Linked DNA regions of Homo sapiens: all the other regions are linked to region 7. The links come from fine-mapping of genetic effects on gene expression. A gene starts in region 7. Each other region holds a variant in brackets. All regions are shown on one strand. Distances are between the middles of the regions.

Region 1 (4,000 bases), 22 kb after region 7:
TGTCTTAGTCTGTTTACGACGCAAGACAAAGTGATCTCGACTTTCAGGAGTCAGGATACCTGGATTCCAGAACCTGTTCTGTGTCTTGCTTGGTGTGGCTTTGGGCTGCCTGCCTTTCAGGTTCTCTGTTTCCCCGTCTTTAAAATGGTCTGAGGGATTCTGGGTCCCTTGTGCTCTGAACTTTTAGGTCTCTTGTGGTTACCTGTGCCCTGATTGCACATGTCTCTTCTTCCAGCCGTGTGTGTGACCCACGTGTCCTTTCCCACTTCCATGTGTACGTGGCTGTTTTGGTGTGATTGTCTGCAGAAAAGAGTCCTTTCCTCCCAGTACCTCCCACTTCTACCTAACAATAAACTCTAGAATCCTTCTCACCTTTTTTTTTTTGTTTGTTTGTTTGTTTGTTTGTTTTGAGACGGAGTCTCGCTCTGTTGCCCAGATTGGAGTGCAGTGGCGCAATCTCAGCTCACTGCAACCTCTGCCTCCTGGGTTCAAGCGATTCTCCTGCCTCAGCCTCCTGAGTAGCTGGGATTACAGGCGCCTGCCACCATGCCTGGCTAATTTTTGTATTTTTAGTAGAGGTGGGGTTTCACCATGTTGGCCAGGCTGGTCTTGAACTCCTGACCTCAAGTGATCTGCCTGCCTCCACCTCCCAAAGTGCTGGATTACAGGTGTGAGCCACCACTCCCGGTCCTTCTCACCTTTTATTAGTAACTGCCATCACCATCATAGCTGGTCTTGGATTCATTAACTCCATCAGGTTATTCCCAGTGGTGGAAACAGTGAATGGCACACAATAGGTGCTCAGTAAATATTTTTGTTTCCTTCAGAAATTGCCTGAAAGATCAGATGAGATGTCTTAAAAGTGAGAGCTATGGAACCCCACTTTAAGATGACATTTTAAGATCCAAAGGCCAAAGATATTCTAGAACAAGGAATCATGCCTTGTTCCATGGGTTCTTGTCAGCTCCTCACCCATACTGATGGCACCTTAAGGTCCACCTGTGTTCTTAGTAGTTGATGCATAGTCCTGTTGATGATGATAAATAATAGTAATTAGCAGCTACCATTTATTAAGCACATACTACATGTTAGGCGTTTTATATTTAATGCTTCCAACACCTAGTGTTGTCAGCATTGTCAGAGTCACTGTTTTATGGACAGAGGAAGTGAGGCACAGAGAGGGGAAGTAACTCTCGCAAGGTTGCACAGCTCCCCACAAGCCCGTGTGCATAACCACCACGTCACTTGATGCTAAGTCCCGTTGATGGGACTGAAGACCAGCCAGACAGGGGAGGCGCCCTCTTCCAGGTGCTGGGCCTGCCCCGTCCCCGCAGCCCATAGGGGAAGTGTCCACAGCTGCAGGCCTGGCAGACACCCAATCTTCTCCTACCCTCTCCAGGGGCTGCTGTTCTCCATGCCCGTGGAATTGCTGAGATCCTGCAGACAGCAGTGAGAAGCTGGCTACTGTCGTCAGAGCCTTTCCCCAGGATGGGGCTGCAGATTTGGCCCCAGCCCTCCTTTGGCCTGCTCAGCTGGCCTGGGGCAGCAGGAGAGAGTGGAAGAGAGGCATGAACTTGCTTTCATCAGAGGGAGCCCAGGGCATGCTCT[G/A]TGGGTTCAGAGGAACTTCCTTGGGCGTGTGGGTGAGACCAGGCATGGCATGACACTTATATGCCACTTCCTTCTCCACCAAAACGTCCCTCTTTGTCTCAGTTGGTGGAATGAAGTGCAATGCAGTAGAGAAGCACGGGGACTTGGCGCCAAGGTGCCGGAGTTCGCAGCCTGGCTCTGCCACCCAGCAGCTGTGTGACTGAAGTCTTTGTGCCTCAGCTCCTTCATCTGTAAAATGGGGATGATGATGAACCCACTTCAAAGGGTTGTCAGGAGAAATAAATGAGTTAATACATGCACCTCATTTAGCACAGTGTCTGGGCCTGTATTAAGCACCATAACATGCTGCTGCTGCTGCTTCCTCCTCCTCTTCCTCTTCCTCTGCCCTCCTCCTCCTCCACCCTCCTCCCCTTCCCCCTCTTCCTCCTCCCCCCTCTTCCTCCTCCCCCCTCCACCTCCCCTCACCCTCATCTTCCATTATTATTATTACTGTTGATTCTTGTAGGAGGAGGAGGAATTGGATGAGGGAGATTTGCCTGGTCAACTCTGCCTCTTCCTCTCCCTCCTTCCTCTGGAGCTGTGTGGGGACTAGATTGTGTTGCTGGCTGTGTGGCCTGCGGTCAGTCACATAGCTTCTCTGTATGCATTTTCCCACCTAAAATGAATACAGCAATTGTAATAATGATAATAATGATAATATGCTTCATTTTAAGATGCACATTTTTTACTGTGTCGCCCAGGCTCACAGCCATTTTATTTTATTTTATTTTTGAGACAGAGTCTTGCTCTGTCTGCGCCCAGGCTGGAGTGCAGTGGCGCAATCTCGGCTCACTGCAACCTCCGCCTCCCGGGTTCAAGCAATTCTGCCTCAGCCTCCCAAGTAGCTGGGATTTTAGGCATGTGCCATCACGCCTGGCTAATTTTTGTATTTTTAGTAGAGATGGGGTTTCACTATGTTGGCCAGGCTGGTCTTGAACTCCTGACCTCAAGTGATCCACCCGCCTTGGCCTCCCAGAGTGGTGGGATTACAGGTGTGAGCCACCACATCTGGCCAAAGATACACATTTTTAATATTTAGTAAATAGCCTTTCTGAAATCTGGGATGAATTTTACAATTGATGTGTATGTTTCCTTAATGTTTCAGCACACACCCTTTTGCCCCAAATTGTTATTCAATCAATGATGCATGTCACAAGCGACAGGGTCTTACAATGAAGCACAGAGGCCACAATGTCCACAATGTGCCAAGCAAGGTACTGGGTGTTTTTTAAATGCCTCATTTTTTAAAACTCTTACTGCAGCCCCAGAAGTAGTACTCATATTCTCCCATTTTACAAATGTGGACATTGAGGCTTAGAGGGTGAAAAGTGGCTTTCGTGGAAGGTCGCTTGTTCACACAGCAGAGCTGCTATCCAACCACCCTCCATGGGTCTTACGACATAGGCTGAAACTCTTTTTCCAAGAGCATCCCATAAGCACCTCTCTCCTTCTCCCTGGGATGTAGGAATATGTTCCTAAAGACAGCTTCAAGCTTCTAGGATGGAAATGCTAGTGGTAGTCTTAAAATATGAGCCCCTGCCAAGTTCCAAATGTCTTTGACCCATGAACTCAGCAGCAGGACGGCATGTCTGGGAGACCCTCCCAAGTCATGCTTTGTGCAGGACACAATGTTTTCGGAGCTTAAAGCGTTTTATAAAATAATGTGGGATTTGTCCCAGAGCCTGGCACAGGGTCTAGAATGCTTGAGTCCTGTTTTCCAGTTGGATTAAACTAAGGTCAGACATTCTGCCCCAAGCCTGAAATGTATCACGTGGGCTGGGAGCAGCCCCTGGCTGTCAGGTCCCTCCCAGGCTACAGGCACCCAGGGGACTTCCCATCTGTCTCTCTGTCCTGTGTTGAGAGTGATAGTGGTTGGTGGGCATTGGGAGGGTCTTAGGGAAGAGAGGAAATAAATAGCAGGCCGCTTGGTTTAGAGCAGGGCTGTTGGGCAGAGTCCAGAAATTATCTTGCTAACAGTGACAGTCTATGAGTTGGTGGGGAAGCGAGGTCGTGAATAATTGATTGCTGCTAACTGAGTTGTGAAAACCATTTTCGGAGATTCGAATGTGGAGGCTCTCCGAAGGAGGGAGGGATGGAGGGGAGGAGGGGGTGGGTGGGAGAGTAGACAGGGATGAGAGCGTCCTCTTCCCTTGAGTCCAGAGGTCCCTCTTGGGCTCCCCTGGGTCTGGTTCAGCGAGTTTGGCTGCAGTCCCCCGCACTTGAAAATGGCCTTGGCTGACCCTGGGCCCTGAGAAGGGAGCAGCGGGTGGCCTCAGCTCTGGTTGGGTTGGGCTGTTCCCCGCTGAGGGTTGGTTGAGTCTCCAGGCTGAGTGGGAGTCCCCAGACTTTCACC
Region 2 (4,000 bases), 100 kb after region 7:
CTGAAGCCTCAGTTTCCTCATCTATAAAATGGGGCCAGCATTATCTTCCCCACAGAGTTGGTGTGAGCATTCAAAAAGCAGCCTCTCAAGCCTAGGTTGAGGCACATAGTAGGTGCCTGATGAACGTCAGTGGCCCGAGCACTGTAGACGCTGATTACTGGTTTCTCAGACGCCACAACTTGGGATGCCAGAGCTTTTGCTTGGGATCTGAGAAGCTGGACTGTGAATATGGATTCCAACAACAGCCCTTCAGAGAGCATTCTGCTTCTCTGTGATTTAAAACGAAACAAAACAAAAAATAATATTGGATGATCCAAGGTGCTGGTTTTATATGGCAGCTAATGAGATAGCAGGGCAAGTAACTGGAGAATGTATTGCTAACAGGCACAATAAATATAGCTATGATTATATATTAGCAGCCCTCAAATGGCCCATAATGCAGTGAGTACATGTGAGGTCAAGAACGTGTTAGAAAACAGATGTTTGTTGTTAGTCCTTATAGACCACACTTTTTAAAAGAAATACGTATTTGATGATTTATTATGATCAGACATTGTTGTAAGTGCTTTACAGATATTCGGTGAATCCTAATAACAGGCCTGGGAAGTAGGTATATGTCATTATTATTATTCCTACTTCGCATATGAGGAAACTGAGGCACCAAGATCTCAAGTAATTTGCTCAAGTTCAAACGGAAAATAATTGAGCCGGCATTTGTACACAGAGACTCTGATACAAGTTTCCATGTTCTTAGCCACTATTCTATGCTGAAGTCACACGGAAGAAGATAATGAATGGAAACGGATAATTGAATGCAAAATACCCACTTTCTCTTAAAAATGGGCCAGACCAGCTGTCCTTGGTCCTGAATTCGACAGGCCTTACCATTAATGGAACTTGTTCTTGAACATTAGCATTGGGAGAGTTGTAGTCCTCACACTGATGGAAGCTATCTAATGTATTCTGTCTGCCATTGACACTGTGCCCCTCTAACACCCTTTCCCCTAAACTGATTTTCTTTTACCATGTTGGAATGTGAGTAGTTTACTGTACCTGCTGAAAGCAAGGTCTTAATTAGCCTTAATTTTTGAAGTCTGCAGCTGTAAAATGTGTTGAAAAGATTGAAAAGATTAGTGCACTAGTAATAAGATAATTGTCCCTGAGAAATGCTGTTAGCATGTAAACACAGTTAGCATGTGAAATCAGAACAACTGTAATATTTCCCTCGTTTGGTGTTTAAAGATGCTCCTGCGTGAATAATTATAACTAAATGCAAAGTGCAGAGATGGGATGCTGCATGTTTTTCCTGTTATTCTTTCCTGCTTCTATCCCAGCTCAGAAGTAAAACTCTTAGTGGAATCTTGTCTGAAGCTAGCCTCCCCTCCCCCACAGCCATTTGAAATTAGTACCAAGAATGGGGCAACTTAGAACAGAGGGAATTCCAAAATTAGGGATACTCAGCAAACAAAATCTACAGATCCCATAGCAACTTTTTTTGGGGGGGTGTTGAATGAAAGAGACCACACATGCATACCTGTATGTGCATGTGGATGCTCACATATGTGTGTGTACACACATGCATATTCACACACATACACTCTCTCTTTCTTTCTCTCTGTCTCTTAATAAACAGAGCTGGAGAAAACTAGCCATGGCTATACACAGCAGAAGCAGATGTGATAAACCTCATTTTACCTTTTTAGACCTAGAAAGGTTGCAGTAAAATATGCTGCACCTGCCACCACATGAGGTCCTTCCTTCCTTCTGTGGAGTTTTTGCATCCTTTGATAAGTTGGAACATACTTCAATTTTATGAAATTAGTACGTATAGTACCTTCCTAACAGACCATAGCTCATCAGATATGCTACATATCCTATAAAGACTAACCTTTCTGCTTCCTCATCTCAGACATTAGCCAATCAGTAGGTTGAGCTTGTCTCCTTCTGCTGTGTCATTTATACCCCAAACTCTTCTTTATAGGGAGGACTTGCCTTGACTTACAGTCAGGAAAACATCCTACAGCTCAGAAGTTGGCTGAGTTCTCAGCATACATCTCTCAGATTCCACCTATAACATGAATTGGGTTTCCGTTGATTTTGGTTCAGCAAGAATTTACCAAGTGCTTTCTATGTGGCAGTCTTAGGACTTCATTAAGCATAAAAACAAAGAAGATAGTCCCTGGTCCTGGGGAAGTGGGACAAGTTGTCAAAAGTATGTAGCAGGGGCTGATGAGAAGACAGGACTCTCACCCCTATCCATGGGAGTCAACTTTGCTCTCTGCCTTGTATTCCTGGGTGTGCATTCATAGGTGCTTCTTGAGTTAAATTATTCTTGGACTTTGCAGCCACGTTACTTTACAACCTGTCTATGGTTCATATCCC[G/A]TCCTTCTCTCTAACCTCAGGTCCTCCAGCTGAAAGTGCTGGGCTTAGCTTAGGATCCACTAAACCAGAGATTACAAACACCAATGCCCACAGCAGCCACACTGGCAGCCGTAAGTGAAGGACATGTGTCTGGGGCGGGGACTGTGGCAAGCAGGAGGGCCTGTGACCCTTCTAAGGGAGATAGCTGCTTTCCAGTGCCAGAAAGGCAGTGCCTTAGGAAAATGCTGGATTTGTGTAGCTAGGTCTTCTGATTTTTCCAAAAAATGCCAGAACTTTGCAGTTTTATGGGAAACCTCCTGAATGTGAAGTATTGGCATCCTATGTAGGTTTTTGTTGTTCTTTTTAAAACATTGTGCAGGCTGAACAAACTATGCCTGAGCTGAATACTGCTTGTAGATTCCAGTTTCTGTTGGCCACCTCTGCAGTCAGCCCATGAAGATCGTGTTCTCAAAGTGCTGGCTAAACAGAGGCCACTGCTGAGTCACTAGGGTTGCTTCCCACCACTTCATGAACGTGTTCAGTGTGAGACCACACACTTTACCTTGCATCTTGTTTCTCCAGCTCTTTCTCATCCTGCCCTCCCCGCAGATGTCTCAATGAAGTCCCTGGGAAAGTAACACTTACTCTCCTGAATACAGCCTACAGTTCCACCAAGCGTGGCATGCATGTGAGCGAGGGTCCCCCAACCCCGCCCCACTGCAGAAGGCGTAGAAATGAAAGCGGATCGTTGTAAGCTTTGGATCCGCCAAATGGGACTTAGCACAGCGTCGTCTCCTGCGTGTTGATTATCAACTTGCTTGGGGGATCTCAGGCTCTTGCCTGACCTTGGCATGAGGTCTGGCAAATTTGGCTTTCTGGGTGTAGAATTGATCGTTTCAGAAACAAAGCCATTGAGACAGAGTTAAGGAGAGTCCTCTATTCACGGATGAAAGGAGCTCATTGTATAAAATTGGTGTGACCTGGACCCCCTTCCTCTGGCCCCCTCCTGTTGTTCCCTTCCCCCACAGCTGGGGCTTTGTAAGGGTCTCGCAGGATGTTCTATCCCAGGCCATACTTTCTTCCCATCTTCCTGTCTCTGAGGCTGCCCCGAACAGAAGGAGAGCTGGGCTTGGAGCCCCTTTGCACGTTTTTGGCTCCTCGGGCCAACTCTGTTGTCGTGGGTGATGAGAGCACTTCCTTCCGAGAGAGCTAGGAGAAAAACAGCCAGGCTGTTCACAGGCAGCTGCCCAAGGCGGCTGTGCAGGAAGAGAAAACAGTGGGTGCTAAGAACCTCTTCCTGTTCTGCCTTCTGCACGGGCACCTCCCTTCTGGGTCACGGCCCTGAAAAGTCAAGACTGTTGAGCTAGAGGAAGATGGTCCTGTGTGTATTAACCTCAGTGCTCAACTTCCTGATGGATTATTTGAGTTTTTCTGTTTCTGCTGTGAAGTCACGGGATCCCGAATTTTTCTTCTTGAGGTTGGCGGGTGAGGGTTGGAGTCATGTTCATGGGGTAACATGGTACCTTCCTTTGTGGGGGAGGGGTAAGGTATGGTGGTGAACAGATAGGAAGGTCATAAACTTAGATGCTTTCAGGGCTCAGCCCAGGTGGGCAGGGTGGGGTTGTGGCAAACAGAAGGG
Region 3 (4,244 bases), 79 kb before region 7:
CATTGACTCTTCTGGTTATGTGAAGTTTTCCTTTTTGCTCTTGCCCTTGTGTTTGAAAGGATTTTCAGAGAACTTGAGTCCACCGTCTTTTTCTGTCAGTAGCAACTAGCAGGGAGCGGAAGATTGGGTGAGTTTGGAAGGTACCCAGCATCACAGTGCTCAGGCTGATGGCTGCTGTCACCACACACGGCAGGACAAGGACACGCAGCAGATTGCTTGTTCAGTGTGACAAAGATGGACCCAGGGACATTTGTACATTTACAAAATGTAATAGTGTGTAGCCAGTAAAAATAGTGTTAGATGGCAAGTGAGGCTGTTATGAGTTACACCGAGTCTCCCCCATCAAAAAAAAAAGATATGTCCTCTGGGTGTGGTGCCTCACACCTGTAATCCCAGCACTTTGAGAGGCTGAGGTGGGCGGATCACAAAGTCAGCAGTTCAAGACCAGCCTGACCAACATGGTGAAATCCCTTCTCTACTAAAAAAAAAAAAAAAAAAAAAAAAAATTTGCCAGGCCTTGTGGTGTGTGTCTGTAGCCCCAGCTACTCAGGGGGCTGAGGCAGAATTGCCTGAACCCAGCAGGTGGAGGTTGCAGTGAGCTGAGATCGTGCCACTGCACTCCAGCCTGGATGACAAGGCGAGACTCCATCTCAAAAAAAAAAAAAGTCGAAGTTGTGAACCCCAAAAATTTGAGACAGGCCTCAGTTAATTTTGAAAGTGTATTTTACCAAGGTTGAGGACGTGCCCGTGACACAGCCTCAGGCAGTCCTGACGACATGTGCCCAGGCTGGTCGGGGCACAGCTTGGTTTTATACATTTTAGGGAGACGTGAGACATCAGTCAATATATGTAAGAAGTACGTTGGTTCTGTCCAGAAAGGCGGGGACAAAGGGACAACTCAAATCAGGGAGGGGGCTTCCAGGTCACAGGTAGGTGAGAGACAAATGGTTGCATCCTTTCGAGTTTCTGATAAGCCTTTCCAAAGGAGGCAATCAGAATATGTATCTATCTCAGTGAGCACAGAGATGACTTTGAATAAAATGGGAGGCAGGTTTGCCCTCAGCAGTTTCCAGCTTGAATTTTCCTTTTAGCTTAGCGATTTTGGGGGCCCAAGGTACTTTCCTTTCACAAAGTCCTAACCCCTAGTACTTCAAAATGTGACCTTCCTTGGAAATAGGGTGGCTGCAGATGTTTAGTGAAGACGAGATATTTCTGGAGTAAGGTGGGCCCCTAGTCCAATATGAAAGGTGTATTAGGGTTCTCTTAGAGGGACAGAACTAATAGGATATGTGTGTGTATATATATATATATATATAATTGATGGACGTTTGGGTTGTTTCCACCTTTTGGCCTTTATAACTAGTGCTGTCATGAACATTTTTGTAAGAGTATTCGTTTGAACACTTGTTTTCAATTCCTTTGGGCATCTACTTGGGAGCAGAATTGCTAGGCTCTGTGATCATTCTTTAACTTTTTGAGATATATATATACATACACACACACATATATACACACACATATATATACACATATAAATATATATAAAGGGGAGTTTATTAAATATTAACTTGCACAATCACAAGGTCCCACAATAGGCTGCCTGCAGGCTGAGGAGCAAGGAGAGCTAGTTTGAGTCCCAAAACGGAAGAACTTGGAGTCTGATGCTCGATGGCAGGAAGCATCCAGCACGGGAGAAAGATGTAGGCTGGGAGGCTGGACCAGTCTCTCCTTTTCAAGTTTTTCTGCCTACTTTGTATTCCCTGGAAGCTGATAGATGGTGCCCACCAGATTAAGGGTGGGTCTGCCTTCCCCAGCCCCTTGACTCAAATGTTAATCTTTTTTGGCAGCACCCACACAGACACACCCAGGGTTAATACTTTGTATCCCTCAATCTAATCAAGTTGATATGCAGCATGAACCATCACAAAAGGTGTCCCATGGGAAGACAACCATGTGAGGACAGAGAGCCACAGGGAGAATGTCAAGTGACAAAGGCTGAAACTGGGGTTATGCAACTGTAAGCCAAGGGGCGCCAAAGATTACCAGTGACCACCATAAGCCAGAAAGAGGCCAGGAAGGATTCTCCTATGGGATTTAGAAGGAAGGTGGCCCTGCAAGCACCTTGATTTTGGACTTCTAGCCTCTAAACCTATAATACATGTCTATTGTTTTAA[G/A]CCATTCACTTTGTTTTGGCAGCCCTTGGAAGAAAACACAGAGGCTGTTGATGCTGTATTTCCAACTAAAAAAGCAACTAATAAAGCAGTGTGCAGGCTATGATCCCATTTATAGAAAAGTCGTGATTATGTAATTTTAAATGACAGATCATACAATAAAATAGTAACAGTTATCACTAGATGAAAAAATTGCAGGTTTAAATTTTTGTTCATTTTTAAAGTCTGTTTTCTCACTCTTCAAAATAAATAGATGATAAGTATAATAGGAGAAACAGGTCATGTTTTTGCAAGAGAAATAATTGCACCTGAAAATATGTTCCCCACATAAACATCTTATACCAACAAATGGCATATGGAATTTGCTTCCTAAGGGCTCAGCCTTCAAACGTTCTTTCTCATCCAGATGTGCTCAGACCATGGCTCTGTACTCAGAAAGAAGCAAAGGAAGGGGGATTTATACCCTCTCCTTTTTATAATCAGTACCTCCCCAGTACCATCAGGATGTAATCTACATATGATCTGTCATGACTTAGCCTCCACTGGTATCTCGAGTCTCATTTTCTACTCATAGTGACCCCAGTTGTCAGCTGTCACCACGCCTGCCCACAACCCCTCCACGCACATACCCATGTAGTATTCTGCCTCATTCCTGAAGGGCTCTTGTGGCTTCCCACGTGAAACTCTGCAGTGTCATGCTTTGTGCCTTCACTCACCCTGTTTTCTTTGCTAAGAGTACACTTCCCAGCCAAGTCCCAGGCATCCTTATATCCTCAGCTTAAATACCAATTCCTCCAAGAAGCCCCCCTTGGAGGGCTTACCTCTGCCTTTATTAGACTTTGTCAAGGCCTCCACCCTTACTGTCTTGGCATCTGTGTATCTGCTGTCCCATCCTGGTCACAATTGTCAGCTTTCTTCTCTCCATCCACCACTGTAGTATCAGCTCCAATGAGGGAAGGAAACATTCAGTGGTCATCCCTGCACCCAGATTGACTGGGCCTGGTATTCAGTAGCAGCTCAATAAGTGTCTGTTTCAATTCGCCATTGCAAAAATATGGAACCAGTCCAAATGCCCATCAATCAACAAGTGGATAAATAAATTGTGATATAGAAAGAAATTGTGATATATATACAAGCCATGGAATACTACTCAGCAGTAAAAATGAATGAAATGATGGTATTCACAGCAACCTGGATGGGATTGGAGACCATTATTCTAAGTGAAGTAACTCAGGAATGGAAAACCAAACATTGTATGTTCTCACTCATAAGTGGGAGCTAAGCTATGAGGATGCAAAGGCATAATAATGATACAATGAATTTTGGGGACTCAGGGAAAGGGTGTTGGGGGTGACGGATAAAAGGCTACACATTGGGTACAGTGCACACTGCTTGGGTAATGGGTATACCAAAATCTCAGAAATCACCACTAAAGTATTTATTCGTGTAACCAAACGCTACCTGTTCGCCAAAAATCTATTGAAAAAATTGTAAAAGGTGCCTGTTGAATTGCACAGAAGCCCATGTGATTGAAGGCAATAGGATTGTTGGACTGTGTTATTTAGATGATACATCTTTCAATTTCTGCTTTTGCTCCCTCCAGTCCATCTTCCATATTCCAAAGTAATCATTATAACTTAAATAAGATGAAGCTAGCCCCAGGTTAAAACCCTTACATAAAACCTCATTACTGTTAGAATAAAATTCAAATGTTTGGTCATGGCCTATAGGCCTGCAATGAAAATCCCTGACTTCAGCTCATTAAGTGCTAAAATATTTGTTAATTGATGAAATGGATGGATGGTTGGATGGATGGACAGATGGATGGATGGATGGATGGATGGATGGACGGACGGACGGACGGACGGTCGGACGGACGGACGGATGGATGGATGGATAGAAGGAAAGATGGATAGGAAGATGAATGGATGGACAGACAAACTGATATATCAATGGATTGATGGGTGGATGGGTGGATAGATGGATGAATGAAGGGATGACTTCTTCCTTTCATGTAAGTGTAAATTTATAGAGAGTATAGCTTGGGCATTCATTTGTCTCTCCTTAGAGAAG
Region 4 (4,000 bases), 31 kb after region 7:
AACTTAAATATGTGGGGCAATATGTGGTGTTAATCTCATTCAGAACCGCCCTCACAGACACCCCAGAAGAATGACCAAATATCTGGGCACCCCATAACCCAGTCAAGTTGACACCTAAAATTAACCATCATGGAGGTGGGGGGTAGGTGGGCAAAAATCACTTTAACACTTTTGATTCTGATCTGCAATGAGTTGTAAGCTCTGCACTATCAATTTGATAACAGCTTTTTTAGTCAGGGTTCTCCAGAGAAACAACCAATGGGATGTATATGAGACACACGCATACAGTTTCATTATAAGGAATTGGCTCATACAAGTATGATGGCTGAGAAGTCCCAAGGCCTGCGGTGGCAAGCTGGGTCCCAGGAGGGCCAGAGTGTTGTTCCAGTCTGAAAACCAGCAGTCTCAAGATCTGGGAAGGGCCAATGTTTTCATCTGAACTCAAAGGCAGGAAAAGACAGGTTTCCCAGCTCAAGAAGCCAGGCAGAGGAGCTCACCATACATGGGGGTGGATCAGCCACCAGTGCAAATGTTAATCTCAACCAGAAATATCCTCAAAGACACCCCAGAAGAATGTCTGACTGACTATCTGGGTACTCTGTGGCCACATCAAGTTGATACATTAAATTAACCATCACAGAAGGGGATGGCAAAAATAACTTTAACGCTTTGACGTTTAAGCTCTGGAAGCTCATTTTTGGGTCACGTGTGGAGGGTTATTGTAGAGAGCTGGATCTTTATCCTCCTTTTGATAATGATCCTATCTTTATCCTCAGCCATTATCTGACACTTAGTGTTGCTGAGGATTTCCTGAGGGAGACTTAATCTTATTCAAGATCTGTTCTTGCGATTGCTACTTAGAGTACCTGCTATTTAAAAAAATCATCCAAGAATTTGAAATTTAAGGCAGGACTTTAAGGAATTAAAACAAGAGTCCAAAGTCCCAATTCCCTTGAGGCCAGGAGAAGTAAGTTGGTACTCTAGGACAGGTGCAGGGCGATAGGGAATGGTGAGGACTTTGGTGGACAGAAGAGCAGAGGCAGTGGACTGTTGCTTCTTGGCTCCACTGCCTGTGACTGTAAGAGAATCAGGCCCAGGGTTATCCATTCTTTCAGGTATTAAAAGCAACCGGAAATTTCCTTTTTTTTAGTGCAATATTTAATAAATATTAACAACTAATTCAGTTTTGTGTTTTTTTCAGTAACACCCTGTGTGGCCAAACAAAACATTTCAGTGAGCTGGATTTATCATAAAGGTCTCTATATAACCACTTATGAATTAAATTATGATAGTGATAATAACAATAAATGATAATTTTTCCTGTCGTCCCAGCTACTCGAGAGGCTGAGGCAGGAGAATCGCTTGAACCTGGGAGGCGTTCTGTCGCCCAGGCTGGAGTGCGGAGGCATGAGCTGAGGCACTCCAGCCTGGGTGACAAAGCAAGAATACATCTCAAAAAAATTAATGATAATTTTGACAAAATATGTAACATTTGTTTGTTTTATTGTGTGCCTGGCACTACTCTGAGTCCTTAACTATATTATCTCATTCAGCCATCAGAACATAGGTAGGCACTGGTTATGCCCGTTTTACAGATGAGGGTCGGTACCATGCTCACAGCCACGCCATTAGTAAGTGTTGGAACTTAGCTTTTCTCGTTCAGCCACCTTTGCTTTAGATTTCTATGCAGTGCTGACTCCCCTGACCCAAAGTGTGAAACTTACCCCTACTGGACTTCTCCAGCCTGGGTTATTATAGATCGTAGCAGAGAGCAGTAGTCCATGGAGAATATTACACTAGGAAGCTTATATTTTATTTAGGCAACCATAAACCATGCTAATCACATTCAAATACAAATGCATCTATTCCTTTCATTGACATGTGAAGTGGAACTTAGTATCCAGATTCTGCAGATGAACGGATAAGATTCCATTTCTATTTCAAGGCCACACAGTTCATTAGGGGCAGAGGGGGCACTGGAACTCAGGTCCACAGGCCTCTAAGGCTCATGGTCTGCTACTTGTTCATGTAATTAAGATCAAAGAACGAGAAAGAGCTGATAGAAATGGCTGACATTGAATGCAGTTGTGCTGACTGTAATTATGTGTGTATGTGTACATGAAAATTCTCATCCAGGAAGTCATTCTGATACTTACCACTTATTGTTTGCCTGTATGGGTGAGCAAGCAGCGTGCTCTGGTTCAGTGCATCTCTTGAATCTTTGCTTTCTCAATGAATATGTGTTAATTAGAAAATGTTATGAAGGTTATCAGTTCATTCTGCATTCATGTTGA[C/T]GGCCAGATCTTTGGTCTCATCTGAAAGTTCTACTGGGGAGGATTTGCTTCCAAATTCACTTACGTAGTTGTTAGCTGGCCTCAGTTTTGCATGGGCTGTTGCACCAAGGGCCCCAGTTCCTTCCTTGCTGGCTGTTAGCTGGAAGCCTCTTACAGGTCCTAACCATAGGGAAGCTCACAACATGACAGTTGGATTCCCCAAAAGCCAAGGATCTAAGAGAGAATATGGGAGAGACAGCACCTAAGATGCACCTAATACGCTGCAGTCTTTTTAGAACCAAACCTTGAATGTGGAATACCATCACTTCTGTATTTTTTCTGTTTATTAGAAGTGAGTGACTAAATCTGGCTCACATTCCGGATGGATTTGGGTGGGAGTGGGGATACTGGAGTGGGTATCCTTGGGGCCATCTTAGGAGCTGCCTACTACAGGTACCTTGGCACAATTTAAATGACATTGAATCTTATAGGAAGTGGTTGAGTCAAAGAGGAAGTCTCGGTTTGTTGTTAGCACATCTTTATCACCTTTCTAAAACTTGTCAGTTTCCCTTTTTAACAATGGAAAGCAGACATTCAGAACCTACTACTACAGTGTTTTCTAGCCGGATTACAACAGTACCATTCCTCCTTTCTTTTCTTTCTTTTCACATTATCTTCTGTTTAGGGCTTGTGTCAACTCATTTTTCATTTGGGATGCAGGTATAAGTTTCTCTTTTAAATATATTCAAATAAACATTGCATAAATAATAGCACACAATACATGCAGATATGGCAAAATTATGTCGGTCTTTGGAAGGATGACTGTAATTTAGGGAGCCGCTCTTTTCCACTATCCAACAAGAAGTGACTGTTTCTCTGGGAGCGGCTGGTTTTATCTGGTTTCTGATGAGGTTCTAGAGGGTAGCAAAAAATCTTTCACCCATCTGTCCGTCAACTTTGTTTGGGGATAACTGGAACTCTGTGTGACCAATTCTGAGGCTGCATCTGAGTTTAAAGGCAAAGTTCTGCAATCAACTAGCCATGTCCACCATGGATGCAGGAGGAAGAAATTGTGCCACGTATGCCATGTGCCTGCCATACTTGATCTAAATCATTGCTTCACTAACTTTTAGCCACTATGATGATGACAATGATTTGATAACAGCTTAAATTTCTGTATTTACCAGAATTTACCAATATTTCTGTATTGCACTCATCCTTATGACAACTCTTTAATTTCAATGATCAGATCTAATTTATAAATGAGAAAACAGACATGGAGGTGTACTGACTCATACAAGATCACCTAGTAAGTGAGCTGTTGAGCTTGGATGCTGATATGGTTTGGCTCTGTGTCCCCACCCAAATCTCATGTTGAATTGTAATTCCCAGTGTTGAGGGAGGGGCCTGGTGGGAGGTGATTGGATCATGGGGGCGGACTTTCCCCTTACTGTTCTCGTGATAATGAGTGAGTTCTCATGAGATCTGATGGTTTCGAAGTGTGTAGCACCTCCCCCTTCACTCTCTCTCTCCTGCCACCATATGCTTGCTTCCCCTTCACCTTCTGCCATGATTGTAAGTCTTCTGAAGCCTCCTAGCCATGCGTCCTGTACAGCCTGTGGAACTGAGTCAATTAAATCTCTTTTCTTCATAAATTATCCAGTCTCAAGTTGTTCTTTCTAGGGATGCGGGAATGAACTGATACAGATGTGAACGCTGGTAGTCTG
Region 5 (4,584 bases), 480 kb before region 7:
ACAGAGTGTGTTTATGATCGAGCCAAGATGTATGTGCATGTTTAATTTCCAGCTCAGTGTTCTTAACACTCCTTTTTGAGATGTTCAGTGTTTTCTGAAACCTTCAGCTGCGTTTTGGATCTCCAACAGGGACTTGCACATTATTTCCCCAAATATCACTGAGGTCAGCGTCTGCAAATCAGAGTCTCCTGGAAACATTTACAGTGAGATTAGAAAAGGAATTGAACGAGGTTAGGTGGTCTCTGTTGGGCCTGAAAATGTAACATGCAGAGTGGGAAATTAAAACAGGGTCTTTGGGGAGAGAAAAGAGGGAGAGGAAAAACCCGGCTTCTCTTATCTTCCTGTCACATGTGAACTCTGTCATTGGAGCTTCCGTTTTTGATAAGCTCAGTGTGTCTTATCACAGCCTTTGACACATGCATTGATCATTTCTTAAACTGTGCCCACAGAGGCATTTTCCTTCCTCTCTCTGGACAGCTCTCCCTTTGCCTTTCCTTCCCTCCCCCTTTGCCTTTCCTTCCCTCCCCCTTTATTTGTTGACACTGATGTTGCATGCAGAGAAGGTTGCTTTCAAAAATACATCTTTTTAATAACTTGTCTCCTAGGAGAGAGGGGTACATCTATGCTTGGGTGGGTTGCTAAGAAAAATCCTGCACTGCTGTCTAACATCTCCTCCTGTCACGGGGAGCGTTTGACAAAGAAAAATGGGCCGGCCTTGCGTTTGGTGCTGATCCCCGGCACAGTCACTGATTCTGGATTGCAGATTCCAGCGGTGGAAGGCACTGTTAAGACAGCCCAGTTGCAATTTGGGCATTCCACAGAAGTCTTTAAAGCAACACTGATGAGCCAAACAAAAACCCATATTGCAGTTGTTGGTTTTTTTCCCCCCCAAGAAATTAAAAATCCTAGTCAAACACATCCAGCTAGCCGGTGCCTTATCACCAGGCAGGGAGGTAGCTTGAAAAAAAAATTTCCGATTACTCCCAGCTCGTGTGAGAGATTCTGAAAGCAGCACATTACCATTCTATAACAGGAAAGCATACATACAATTCAATTTTATGCACTTCAGGCTTGGGAGTGTTTAGTACTTAGTCTAATTGATCAGGTGGAATGGGAAGGCTCTGGGAGCTAATTATCTTCCACATTGGAAACCCTTTATTGCTTGGATGACCTTTTTGGAAAATCAGGGACAAGTAATGGCCCTTCTCAGATTTTTGCTGGAAGAATACTGTGGCCAAAAACATCAAGAATAAGAGAAATGTCTTTCCATGGAAGCACCAATGATACCATTTGCTGTTTCTGTCTTTTTATGTGGTTACTGCTTAATATCCACAGACCGTTTTATGTTTACCAAGTCATTTTGCATTGTCTATTTAGAGATTTTAAGTATTCCTTTTTTTTTTTTTTTTTTTTGAGATGGAGTCTTGCTCTGTCACCAGGCAGGAGTGCAGTGGCGTGATCTCAGCTGACTACAACTGCCGCCTCCTGGGTTCAAGCAATTCTCCTGCCTCAACCTCCTGAGTAGCTGGGACTACAGGAGCGCACCACCACGTCCAGCTAATTTTTGTATTTTTAGTAAAGATGGGGTTTCACCATGTTGGCCAGGATGATCTTGATCTCTTGACCTCGTGATCTGCCTGCCTCGGCCTCCCAAAGTGCTGGGATTCCTGAGATCTCAGTAGTACGGGGATTGATGCCTCCGTTTTATGGATGAACAGGGAATTTGTCTAATCACACAGCTGGCGGTTGGCTGACTTGTGAATTCAACTCAGGTTGTTCAAATTATTTTGTAGAAAAATCTCAACATTTGTTTTTCTTTAGGGGTGGATATCAATTTTACATTTTACAGGCAACTTTGTTTATGAAAGTCATCAGAATGGGCCTTTGGATATAAGGCCCAGTTGTAAAGAAAATGACTAGTGTTCCTCGAGAAAACCAAGTACAGTCATGGATGGCTGCGCAGGTTGCTCACTGCACAATGGTGACATTGAAGCCCAGCCCTTGCTCTCTTTGCCCAGCCTTGCATCCCAGTGTGGGTGGGGCATCTTCACCCAGAGAAGGGACCACTTTAATTTTAACAGAAGCACCTGCCGAGAGGAGGTGCTGTTTTCTAATTTGCACATGGGTGCCATATGAGCTCTTAGTAATCTTTGTCAATATTAAATGCAGAAGCTACAGCCTGAAATACTCAGAGTTCTATTTAATGATGAAAAATGAGATTATGTTTAGCAGGACTGTGCCTTTGTGGAGTTAGAGGAAACTTGCTACTCTCTCAAATTGGATTTCGGTTGAATGATACCTGAAGCTTACTTGCTTGCGAGAAGTCTGGGTTTCTTTTTCCAAAAGTTTGTTTATAGTTGATCAGGGGAACAGAGTCTTGCTGAGAGGGAAATATAATCAGACCTGATGTCTCCATTTTAGGCTGGAAAAAGGACTTTGAACTTGAGTTAGACTAGTCTTGGCATAGCCCTTAGGGTAGTGAATGAACCATGCTTTTAGAAGTACTCTGTAGATGTTTTGAATGCCTTGTCTGTACCTTGGAGGATGAAGACCATTGTGTGGTTGGAGTGGGGGTGTCTTCTGAAGAAAGGGTCTGTTCCTATGGCCATCCATCCTGATA[C/T]GGGAAATAAGACCTTGGGCTGAGAGAGGAAGGAACTTCTTTTTACATCTGGGTCTAGGGAGATTAAGGACCTAAATTTTTAGAGTTTCCATTGGAGAGGCAGTAACTCCAGTGACAGCGATGAGTTTCTCTCTGTGAAAAATTTTGAAGTCCCCAACTGTTTGATAAAGGTTTGTTAAATATTATGGTCTGGGATACTTAGACCTGCTTGAAAGGGGGATTAATAGAAGGGTTTCTCTCCAAGCTTGGAGTATAGAGTGGGCACACAGATGATTGCGTAAATATGCTCAAATATATTACTCTAAAGTCTATTCCCAAAGCCCTTTGACCCTTACAAAGGGAATGTCAGACAGAGGCTCTTGCCAAAATCTTCCTCTTAATGTTGACATAGCAGGGAGGCATCATATTGCAGATAAGTAAGTCTGGTTTAAACATTAGTTCTGTAACTTGCAGGTAAGTTATTAGCTTTCTCAGTTGCCTTTTCTGACATAAGCATGTTCATCTTTACTTCAAAGATTTGGGATGAGGCTAATCTTTGAGAAAGGGCCCTTGCACCAGCCACACAGAGGTGCTAAGAAAAACGTTAGCTCCCTCCTTGTTAGAAAAAGAAGCGCTTTCAAGATTAAAAAAAAAAAAAGATTTCTGGGTGTCCCTTTAGTTACTTACACCAAGAAGGCATAATTCTGACTCCATCTAGATCAGGGGCTGACAGACATTTTCTGCAAAGGGCCACAGAGTGCATATTCTCTGCTTTGTGGGCCGTACAGTTTCTGTCATACCAACTCAGCTCTGCCATAGTAGCATGAAAACCCTAGACAACGTATATACAAATTGGGCATGGCTGTGTTTCAACAAGATTATATTTATGAAAACAGGTAGGAGGCTGGTTTGGCCTTTGGGATGTGGTTTGCAGACCTCTGATCTGAACAGTGTTCACTTAAACTCTCTGCGCAGTTATAAGCTTTGTCCACCCTCCTATTCTCCTCTCTGTAAATGGTTTTTGTTTTCTGCCCCTTTTCTCTCTATGGGCAATGCACACAGTCATTTCTCAATAAATGAGGGTGCCGAGGAGACGCCTAATTTTCAAATAAAATGACTGAGAAAACACTGAGAGAACAGAGAGGATCGATGGCTAAGCCCACACACACAGCACAGCAGAAGCAGAGCTGGCATAGCACACCCTCCCCTGTCCCTTCCCCACAGTCCATCTCTTTATTTAACTCACTGACCCATTTTGCCCTCTTGGAAATCAGCTGGATTTGAAATGGCACCTTTAGCATATTTTTACATCTTTTTGCCCTACTTTTCCACGTTCATCCATGGATGGTAGAAAGTTTTCAAATTAAGTGTCACTGTTCAAAGTCAAAAATTAATTAATTAGCCAGTGGCCAGACATGTGCGGTGCCCGGAATGCTTATCAGTCTGCCTCAAAAGCTTTGCTAATTAGAATGAAGTCAGAGTGGAACCAGGCAGATCAAAGAGCCCAATCTCTCTCCCTTAGAACTTCTCTCGCATTGGTCCTGGAATTCTAATCAATTCCACCATTTAAATAAATTCTATGGGCTGGGTCTTGTTTTGTCCAGGGTACAGAGTGAAATTAGGGATTCATCACAAGTGTTTTCAGTTTGCAAATTCCTCCATATGGGGGATATCCTTCAATAGAAAATACCTCAATGCCTCCTTCAAAACACAGGTAGGTGTTTCATGGTTAGGTACTTTATGCAGCTTGCTCAACTTTCCCAACTATGATGACAAACCTGGTTCTTGAAACTTTACTTCCAAAGCTGATTGCTCAGCACCTTCATTTGGACAAGCGTAGGGCTGAGAAAATAGCCTGATAGGTATCTTTTGTAGGTTAATACGATTTTATTTCATCCATCCGTGATAGCACATTTTATAAACAACTTTATTGAGGTGTAGTTTACCTACCACAAGATTCACCCATTTTAAGTGTGCAATTTAAT
Region 6 (4,000 bases), 130 kb after region 7:
TAATCTTCGACAAACCAATGAGTAAAAACAGTATCTTGCTGCCTTGATTTGAATTTTAGATATGAGTGGATCTAAGCATTTTTTTACATGGGGTATTTGTGAATTCCATAGCTCCATTTTTCAGGATTCTGGGTCCTAATGTTCTGATTGTCTGCCTCCTTGGAGGAAATGATGGATAATGATGGCTAAAAATTGTTGAGCATTTACTATGTGCCAGCCCCTGTGCTAAGTGCAGTGCATGGATTAACTCAGTCTTCCCATAAGGAAGATTCTCTTTAATCTCCCCATAAACCTGTGTAAGTGAGGTATGGTTGTTATGCCCTCTTTCAAATAGCAAAACTGAGGCACAGAGAGGAAAGGGTTAACTGAGTCACCCAAGGTCATATAGAGAGTGAGTGGGGAGCTGGTCTTTGGACCTACGCAGAACTCTTAACTACCATTCTGTGCAGTTTGTGTAATTGGTAATGGTGGCGATTGTTCTTTAAGATTTAACCATTCTGTGATACCTCGAAAGCAGAAAACCAAAATGTTCCTGGGTAAGGAAATGATCTGAACACAGGCATGGCGCTCTGCCTGAGCTTGGGGCCCCAGCCCATGTGGTGGCAGCTGGAGACAGAGCTCTGTGTTCAGCCTGTGAAAGACAGCTGAGCTGCAGGCACATTCTGTGACATGCCCACGGCCATACAAGGAAATAGTATCACCTCTTTCCACAGTGAGTCACTTTTCCTTCTTAGGGAGTCTCCAGTTGAGCTGCAGAACTGGATCTGGGAAACCAACTGCAGAGGTGTCAACTGTTAGAACTGTAGATTGAATCAGATGGATGGATATATGTTGGATGGAGGGATGGGCGGATGGATAGAGGGATGAGTGGATACAGGATGGGTGGGTGGATGGGTGGGCAGATGGATAGAGAGGTGAGTGGGTAGATAAATGAGTGGATAATAGATGGGTGGACGAATGGGTGGATGGATAGAGGGATGGGTGGATGGATAGAGGGATGGGTGGACAAGGGGTGATGGATGCATCATGGATGGATGTATGATGGAGGGATAGATGATGGATGGAGGATGGATGAATGGATGGATGGATAGGTGATGGATGGATGATGATGGATACACAGATGGAAGGGAGAAAAGACGGAAGGAGGGAAGGAAGGAAGAAGGAAGGAGGGAAAAAAGGATAGATAGATAAAATATCTCAGTTCATTTTTTAAAAATTCCTATTGTATACTAACCACTGCTTTAGGTGCTGGGGATTGGAAGATGAAGGACCTGGTGCCCTGCCACCAGTGAGCTCACTGTCTACAGCAGGATAGTGTCACCTTCTCTGTGTTGTAAATCCCTTCGGAATCTGGTCAAAATTATGCTCCCCTTCTCTGAATATTTTCAAATGCAAAAAAATGCAGAGGATTAAAAAGGAAAGTGGTTATATTGAAGTACAGCCGTCAAAGTATATATAAAAATCAGAAAACTGTGGAGTAATAATACATTTGCTTCTTTATTAACACATTAAAGTAGATTTGGCATCAGGTCTAATAACTACCCTAATTTTGAAGTAATGACAAGTATAAACAATATTTGGAGACATCTGCCACCAAAGCAATGTGACATGAAAATATCTGCAATTTCTGTTGGTGTCAAAGTCTCGGGTGTTGCTAATACTACTGCAGTCTGTTGCCTATATTCATAATTGAAGGTCATGCTAAATTTCAGTTAGAGTTAGTGAAAATAATTATGAATATGTACAAGTTCATCAGCGGGTATGTACAAGTTCGAAGACCCCCAGAATTCTCTCTCCATAGATCCCCAAACTCACAGATTCCAGAAAAATGACTCTGGGCTAGATGGAGAGAGAAATCATAGCAAGATGTTCATCACAGGGTATATACTCACAGAGTCAAGTGGTGCACAGGATTCCACATTATTTAAATGATTTGTGTCACCATCTATCTCTCTCTTTTTTCCCTCCTGACTGTTTATAGTTGAATTTTTGTAAGATAGATTTCTGATGTTTCTCCCTTGCGGAGTGTTATCAGTTCTGTGATCATGTAGGAGTGGGCAGTATAACCTAGAACACTCCTGGAAGGCTTCCTGGAGGAGCTGTTGCCCACAGCATGACCTTAACGGGTGAATGATAATCCCAGCACTTTGGGAGGCCGAAGTGGGTGGATCACCTGAAGTCAGGAGTTTAAGACCAGCCTGACCAATATGGTGAAAGCCCGTCTCTACTAAAAATGCAAAAATTAGTTAGTTGTGGTGGTGGGCACCTGTAGTCCCAGCTACTTTGGAAGCTGAGACGGGAGCATTGCTTGAACTAACTGCACTCCAGCCTGGGCAACAGAGCGAGACTCCGTCCCAAAAAAAAGGGTGAATGTGAGCAGGCCACGAATGACCAGGATAAGGGGACACGAAAGACCATTCCCG[A/G]CAGAGAACAGAGATGAAAATATTGAGCCTTGTCAGAAAATCACAAGAAATACAATATTCATGGAGCACAAGGCTCCTCTTCCTTTATAAAGTCTTTCCAGCCAGCCCGGCAAAGCGTAGGTTTCAACTTCTCCTTTGTTGCAGCCTTTTCCAAAGTGTCAGATGTAAAAGAGAGGAGCAGGCCTTGGCAGGGGATGGGACTGATAAGGCAGGCACAGGCCCAGGTACTGTAGACCACATCAGGGAGCTTCAGATGTATCGTGTAGGTAATGGGGAGCCACTGAAGATGTTTGAGGAGCAGAAGAGCATGGTCCAAGATCAGTTTGAGATGATCACTCTGGCTGCTTCGTGGGGAATGGATTGCAGAAGTGAGCCTAGAGGCAAGGAATCAGAAAAGGGGACATTCAGTTCAGGGGAGTTATGATAAAGGCCTGAACTGGGACAGGGAAAGTGGGAAAGGAAAGGAGGGGACAGATTTGAGGGCCATTAAAATGTAGAACGGGGGCCGGGTGCGGTGGCTCACGCCTATAATCCCAGCACTTTGGGAGGCCGAGGTGGGTGAGGTCAGGAGTTCAAGACCAGCCTGGCCAACATGGCGAAACCCCGTTTCTACTAAAAATACAAAAATTAGCCGGACGTGGTGGCGCATGCCTGTAATCACAGCTACTCGGGAGGCTGAGAAGAATCACTTGAACCCTGGAGACAGAAGCTGGAGTGAGCCGAGATGGCGTCACTGCGCTCCAGCCTGGGTGACAGAGCAAGACTCTGTCTCACAAAAAAAAAAAAAAAGAAAAAGAAAAAATGTGGAACAGACAAAGTAGGACTCAGGAAAAAATAAGATCGGGAATGTGTGAATAGGGCAAGTTTGGAGAGAAGAAGGAATTCTCGGAGACAAGGGTTTGTGGTCCCACAACCTCTTGTGATGTTTTTAAGGAGCAGGTGGCTAGGGAGAGATCTAAGGAACCTCCCACACCATTTTCCCAGGTAACCAAGGTAGGCTTCCCTGGATTTAGCAACGTGAAGTCCTGCACCCAAGGAGCTTGGGCTGAATTGCAATGCTGCAAGTTCAATTAAAGGTTCTCAGGAGGCCGGGCATGGTGGCTCACGCCTGTAATCCTAGCACTTTGGGAGGCTGAGGCTGGCCAATCGCTTGAGCCCTAGAGTTTGAGACCAGCCTGGGCAATGCAGTGAGACCCCCTCTCATCTCTATAAAAAATTAGCTGGGTGTGGTGGCATGTGCTTATAGTTCCAGCTACCTGGGAGGCTGAAGTGGGAGGCTGGCTTGAACCCAGGAGGTGGAGGCTACAATGAGCCATGACTGCACCACTGCACTTTAGCCTGGGTGACAGAGTAAGACCCTGTCTCAAAGAAAAAAGATTCTCAGGAAGTCAGTGTTACCACCTTTGCAGACCACTGTCTCCCTGCACTGAACAAAGGCAAAAAATTGTGAGAATTTAACCACTTAAAAAAACCCAAAAAACCCACCCTGTACTTTGTAGGGATTTATATGCCTTTCTGGGGCTGAATAATATTTTTTTGTTCAGAGCCACAGTTGGGGTTACATACGATCTTACAAA
Region 7 (4,574 bases):
CTCGTCTGTACTAAAAAAAAAATTAGCTGGGCGTGGTGGCACATGCCTGTAATCCCAGCTACTCGGGAGGCTGAGGCATGAGAATTACTTGAACCCAAGAGGCAGAGGTTGGAGTGAGCTGAGATCACACCACTGCACTCCAGGCTGGGTGATGGAGTGAGACTGTGTCAAAAAAAAAAAAAAAAAAAAGACTTAAAAGATAGACTTAAGTCTTATTACTGTTAGTAATAGATGTTATTGCTTGTAAACAAAATATCCCCAACTGATAAACAGATGACTGGTGGCCCTAGAAACTTGCCTCTGGTCTTTTACTCCTGGTTAGGGGTGCTGGGCCCAAAGGGAAGGCCTCTATGCCAGGCTACATGCCTGGCTAAGCTTTAGATACAACTAAGGTTGATTGGTTTGGAGTTTACAACCCCCACTAGCATACATTTTATACTTTTCTTGTTCAGGCAAGTGGACTGGCTAATTACATGGGTTCAGAAAGCATTTTTTCTTGGCGCTTACTCCCGTCCTGCCCTCATGAACCCTTAGCATTTTTGCACATCTCTACAGCAATGCTTATCTCACCATATATATATATATAATATTATATATATTTACATATAAATATATATATTATATATATGTTATATATTATATATTATATATATTATATGTACATATATATAAATATATTATATATAATATATTTATTATATACATTATATATAATATATATATATACAATATATATATATTTATATATACGTTTTTTAGATGGAGTCTTGCTCTGTAACCCAGGCTGGAGTGCAGTGGTGTGATCTCGGCTCACTGCAGCCTCTGCCTCCTGGGTTCAAGAGATTCTCCTGCCTCAGCCTCCTGAGTAGCTGGGATCAGGGGTGTGTGCCACCATGCCCGGCTAATTTTTGTATTTTTAGTAGAGACGGGGTTTCACCATGTTGGCAAGGCTGATCTCGAACTTCTGACCTCAGGTGATCCTCCTGTCTTGGCCTCCCAAAGTGCTGCGATTACAGGCATGAGCCACCGCGCCCAGGCCTATCTCACTATATTTTAATGATTAACATCCACATCAGGCTTCTCTAGACCTCAGGCTTGCTGAAGATGAGATTAAACCTCATTCACCTTTGGATGCGTGCACCTGGCCCAGTGTCTGACACAAGCTTTGTATTCACGGATGCTTGTGGAGTGGATGAAACAATCTCTTCCCACTCCCTGCCTCATTGTCTGATGAGCCTTCATTACACTCCACTTTCTTCTCTTTGTAAATTAGGATGAGGTGAAAAAGCACAGCAGACAAGATGCGAAGCATTCACGCCAAGTCCTCAATTCACAAACTGATTTGATCTGCTGTTGTATTCCCAGAGTGCTAGGTCCCGTATGGGACACCAACGCCATCCCATATGCTCACTGTTCTGCGCTGCTGTGTATAAAGCCCTGGGCAAGAGGACAAGGGAGGGAAAAACCAGAAAGACTGAGTCAGAGAAGGCTCGGGATGAAATTTGAGTCCATTGGGATCATTCTGCCTAAACGACAGAGGAGAAAGCTTGGGCTCAGGGAGGAGTCCTCCTCCTCCTGGCTCAAGGTCACCGGGACAGACCAGTCAGGATGGGAAAGAACTCCACTTTCAAGAGCAAGACCTGTTTCCCCAGGACCTGGGCCCTGTGCAGACAGGAAGGGGGACTTCAGGATGGATGGGGAAAAGGACACGCTGGGAGGCTGCGGGGCCAGCCTTTGGGGCTTGCATCCTGCGAAGGTTGAGTAACTCCACGGGTCTCCCTTTTGCCGCTATACCACTTGCCAACTGGGTTTGGAGTCTCTTGGCTTGTGAGTCCTCAGGGACCAGAGAAGTGACTCAGTGAACACTTAGTACATCGTTGGCACCGGGGATTGTGTGTGATTCAGGAGTCACTCACAGAGCTTGTGCTGATTAACTCCAGAAACTCACCCAAAGCCTCCTCCCCACCCCTTCAAGCCCAGGATGAAGGGATCAGACTGTGGCTCTGACACTCCTGAAATGTTTCTCACGTGTCCACCTGCCAACCGGTCTGGTACCGACAGAAGATCCCTGGACCGCGAACTCCGGGGCTAGGAGCTTCCTCCACGCACTGCCTCCTTCCAGCGGCCCACAGGGAAAACAGGACCTCGGGACCCCCTCTCTTCCTGACCTCCCCTGGATTCTGAGCGGGCCCACCCTCAACCAAAGGTCCCCTGTTTCGCGGCCCCTGCCTCTCTTTTTCCGCCTTGGGAATTGTCCCCCTCGCCCCCCATCCTACTCCCACTACGTCCTGAGGGGTGTCTGTCTTCTCTGATCGCCCCCACCCCCTTCCTTTCCCTCCTCCTTTTCCTCCCTCGGCTCCTCCCCCAGGCCCCGCCCTCTCCGCCTCGGCCCGCGTCCCCCCGGCGCCTTCCCCATCACCCTCCCCTCCAGCGGGGACAGGGGTGTGGGGAGGGGGGCGGCGGCGGCGGCCCGAGCGGGAGCCCGAGCGGCAGCCGGCGGCCGCGGGAGCTGCGGGGAGCGCGGGGGCGGCCCGGAGCGTGCCGGGGTCCCCGCGCCTCGCTCGCCGGCCGCGCTCCGAAGATGGTGGCGGCGCCGTGCGCCCGGAGGCTGGCCCGGCGCTCGCACTCGGCGCTGCTCGCGGCGCTCACGGTGCTGCTGCTGCAGACGCTGGTCGTGTGGAATTTCAGCAGCCTCGACTCCGGGGCCGGGGAGCGCCGCGGGGGCGCAGCGGTCGGCGGCGGGGAGCAGCCGCCCCCGGCCCCGGCCCCGCGCCGGGAGCGCCGGGACCTGCCCGCCGAGCCGGCTGCAGCCCGAGGAGGAGGAGGAGGCGGCGGCGGAGGAGGAGGAGGACGGGGGCCCCAGGCGCGGGCGCGGGGAGGCGGCCCCGGAGAACCGCGGGGACAGCAGCCGGCCAGCCGGGGGGCACTGCCCGCCCGGGCTCTGGTAAGATGCCCTTTCGGCTCGCGCCCCGCGGCGAGGGAGGGAGGAAGGCAGCCCGACCCCACGCCCCCCTAGCCCTTGAACTCGGTCATCAGACTGGGACTCTGCAAGCCTACCGACTCCACATCGCCTCTTGCCCCGGGAAGCCGGGTGGGGTCCCTGCCAAGGCTCAGGGGTCGTGGGCTGCCCCTTTCAGAGTCTGAGCACGGACCCCTTGGGGTCTGGGGGAAGTTTTCTCCAGCGGGGGCGCTTTGGGGGTTACCGGAGCCTGGCTGGGTTCCTGTTCCCCATCACTCTTGCTGGGGACCCCAGGTGACTTGCTCCGTGCGTGTAGGTCTTGGTGACTCGCTCCCTGCCTGAGTGAGTGGATCTCCCCGGATCCTCAGCCGCTGTTCCTGGGCGGTTGTCGCAGCAGCATCTCTCTGGTTTTTGCCGAGCTGGGTGCAGACAGTTGAGCCCTCTGTTCGTCCTGGCCTGCGATGAGGGCTGAGCTGGGCGTCCCAAGTCCCCGACCATGCCCCTGAATCAATACTCAGTCCGGGGTGTCTGGTCTTACTTTGGGTCTTCTGTTTCTCTTCTCTGGATGTTTGAGCCTTCCGTCTTCACCTTCTCTGTCTCTAACCTTGCCGTCTCCCATGCCCTCTGTGACTTTATCTCCTCCCCATCTCCAGTTTCAGGGCATGGCTCCTTCTCCTAGCTGGTTGTCTCTGTCTTTCTGTCTTGTTGCGGCCGGTTCAGGTCACCAGCTGTGTGTCCGACCACACCGTCAGGGCTTCCACTCCTATGGGATTACTTTGCCCTTCGTGGGTGTGAACAGTCAGGGCTCTGAAACTGTTTTTTCCGCAGATCTGGGGCCATCTGGGTGGCTGGGTGGGGAACTGACTTGTCTTCCTACCCTGTCCCTAACTTCTCCAGGGATACCTTTCCCACCTTCTCTGGGCTGCCTTGCCCAGCCTACTGAGCTAGGAGCAGGAGCACATGGGGCAGGAGGCCGGAGTCCCCATTTCAGAGCCAAGGTCTCAGTTCTCCAGGGGCGTGAGTTCTGCCTTAGGGCATAGCCAATGTGTTGTGTGTCTGTCTGTTTCTTCATCACACTACTTGTCTGCAAGGATTTGCCTAGCCGTTAAAGGATATTAGACACCAGGGGGATGGTTTCAGGATCCTGAAGACTGAATGCATATTTCTATCATTTGTCACTTTGGAAGTCCTCACTGAAGACTGCCTTAGTACACAGCGTGATGCTTTCTGAGCTGCTAAACTTCTTCGGAGTCTGTGCGACCCTTTCTGCCGGAGTGCAGCTCTTCATGCCTGAGAACTGAGCCAGTCCCAAGACGTGATGTGATGGCATTTCACGTTGCTGTGTGGGTAGCAGGGAGAAGTCTTTCCCTCATTTGCGGGGAGAATAGTGGCGTGAGCTGCCTGACGGAGAACCAGAACATTCCTAGTGTCCTGCGATCTCTTCTTTACAGAGAGGGGTACTCTGAAACGCTGCCTTTGAACTCTTGGAGTTGATAGTGATGGGTTCCCGCAGAAATGCAATTAGAAGTTCTTTGTGCATCCAGAGCCCAGGAGGTGGGGTGGGAGGGTTGTGGGTCGTGTCCTGCTGGTCCAGTGTAAGAACGTGTAGGGGAGA

Evidence for each region.
Region 1: its variant is fine-mapped to the expression of XYLT1 in whole blood (TOPMed, PIP above 0.99).
Region 2: its variant is fine-mapped to the expression of XYLT1 in whole blood (INTERVAL, PIP above 0.99).
Region 3: its variant is fine-mapped to the expression of XYLT1 in whole blood (TOPMed, PIP above 0.99).
Region 4: its variant is fine-mapped to the expression of XYLT1 in whole blood (INTERVAL, PIP above 0.99).
Region 5: its variant is fine-mapped to the expression of XYLT1 in whole blood (TOPMed, PIP 0.97).
Region 6: its variant is fine-mapped to the expression of XYLT1 in whole blood (TOPMed, PIP above 0.99).

The regions. Positions count from the first base shown.
Region 1 is chr16:17,446,747-17,450,746 of GRCh38, reverse strand. All of the region lies in intron 1 of XYLT1 (xylosyltransferase 1), which reads left to right. Among named protein-coding and RNA genes, the nearest start is that of XYLT1, 22 kb to the left of the region's middle. The variant G/A (reference allele first, on the strand shown) is at 1,609.
Region 2 is chr16:17,369,440-17,373,439 of GRCh38, reverse strand. The region is part of intron 1 of XYLT1 (xylosyltransferase 1); the gene reads left to right. Among named protein-coding and RNA genes, the nearest start is that of XYLT1, 100 kb to the left of the region's middle. RefSeq lists an enhancer at 3,765-3,854. The variant G/A (reference allele first, on the strand shown) is at 2,383.
Region 3 is chr16:17,547,573-17,551,816 of GRCh38, reverse strand. No RefSeq gene overlaps it. Among named protein-coding and RNA genes, the nearest start is that of XYLT1, 79 kb to the right of the region's middle. The variant G/A (reference allele first, on the strand shown) is at 2,175.
Region 4 is chr16:17,438,538-17,442,537 of GRCh38, reverse strand. The region is part of intron 1 of XYLT1 (xylosyltransferase 1); the gene reads left to right. Among named protein-coding and RNA genes, the nearest start is that of XYLT1, 30 kb to the left of the region's middle. The variant C/T (reference allele first, on the strand shown) is at 2,295.
Region 5 is chr16:17,945,733-17,950,316 of GRCh38, reverse strand. All of the region lies in intron 3 of LOC107984893 (a long non-coding RNA gene), which reads left to right. Among named protein-coding and RNA genes, the nearest start is that of NPIPA8, 390 kb to the left of the region's middle. The variant C/T (reference allele first, on the strand shown) is at 2,621.
Region 6 is chr16:17,336,994-17,340,993 of GRCh38, reverse strand. The region is part of intron 2 of XYLT1 (xylosyltransferase 1); the gene reads left to right. Among named protein-coding and RNA genes, the nearest start is that of XYLT1, 130 kb to the left of the region's middle. The variant A/G (reference allele first, on the strand shown) is at 2,424.
Region 7 is chr16:17,468,804-17,473,377 of GRCh38, reverse strand. XYLT1 (xylosyltransferase 1) reads left to right here and starts at 2,418. Exons shown (of 12, transcript NM_022166.4): 1 at 2,418-2,944. The coding sequence starts at 2,582. LOC107987234 (a long non-coding RNA gene) reads left to right here and starts at 2,951. Exons shown (of 2, transcript XR_001752091.2): 1 at 2,951-4,574. LOC105371106 (a long non-coding RNA gene) reads left to right here. Exons shown (of 3, transcript XR_933144.3): 3 at 1,274-2,371. RefSeq lists enhancers at 1,923-2,424, 3,199-3,248, 3,369-3,638.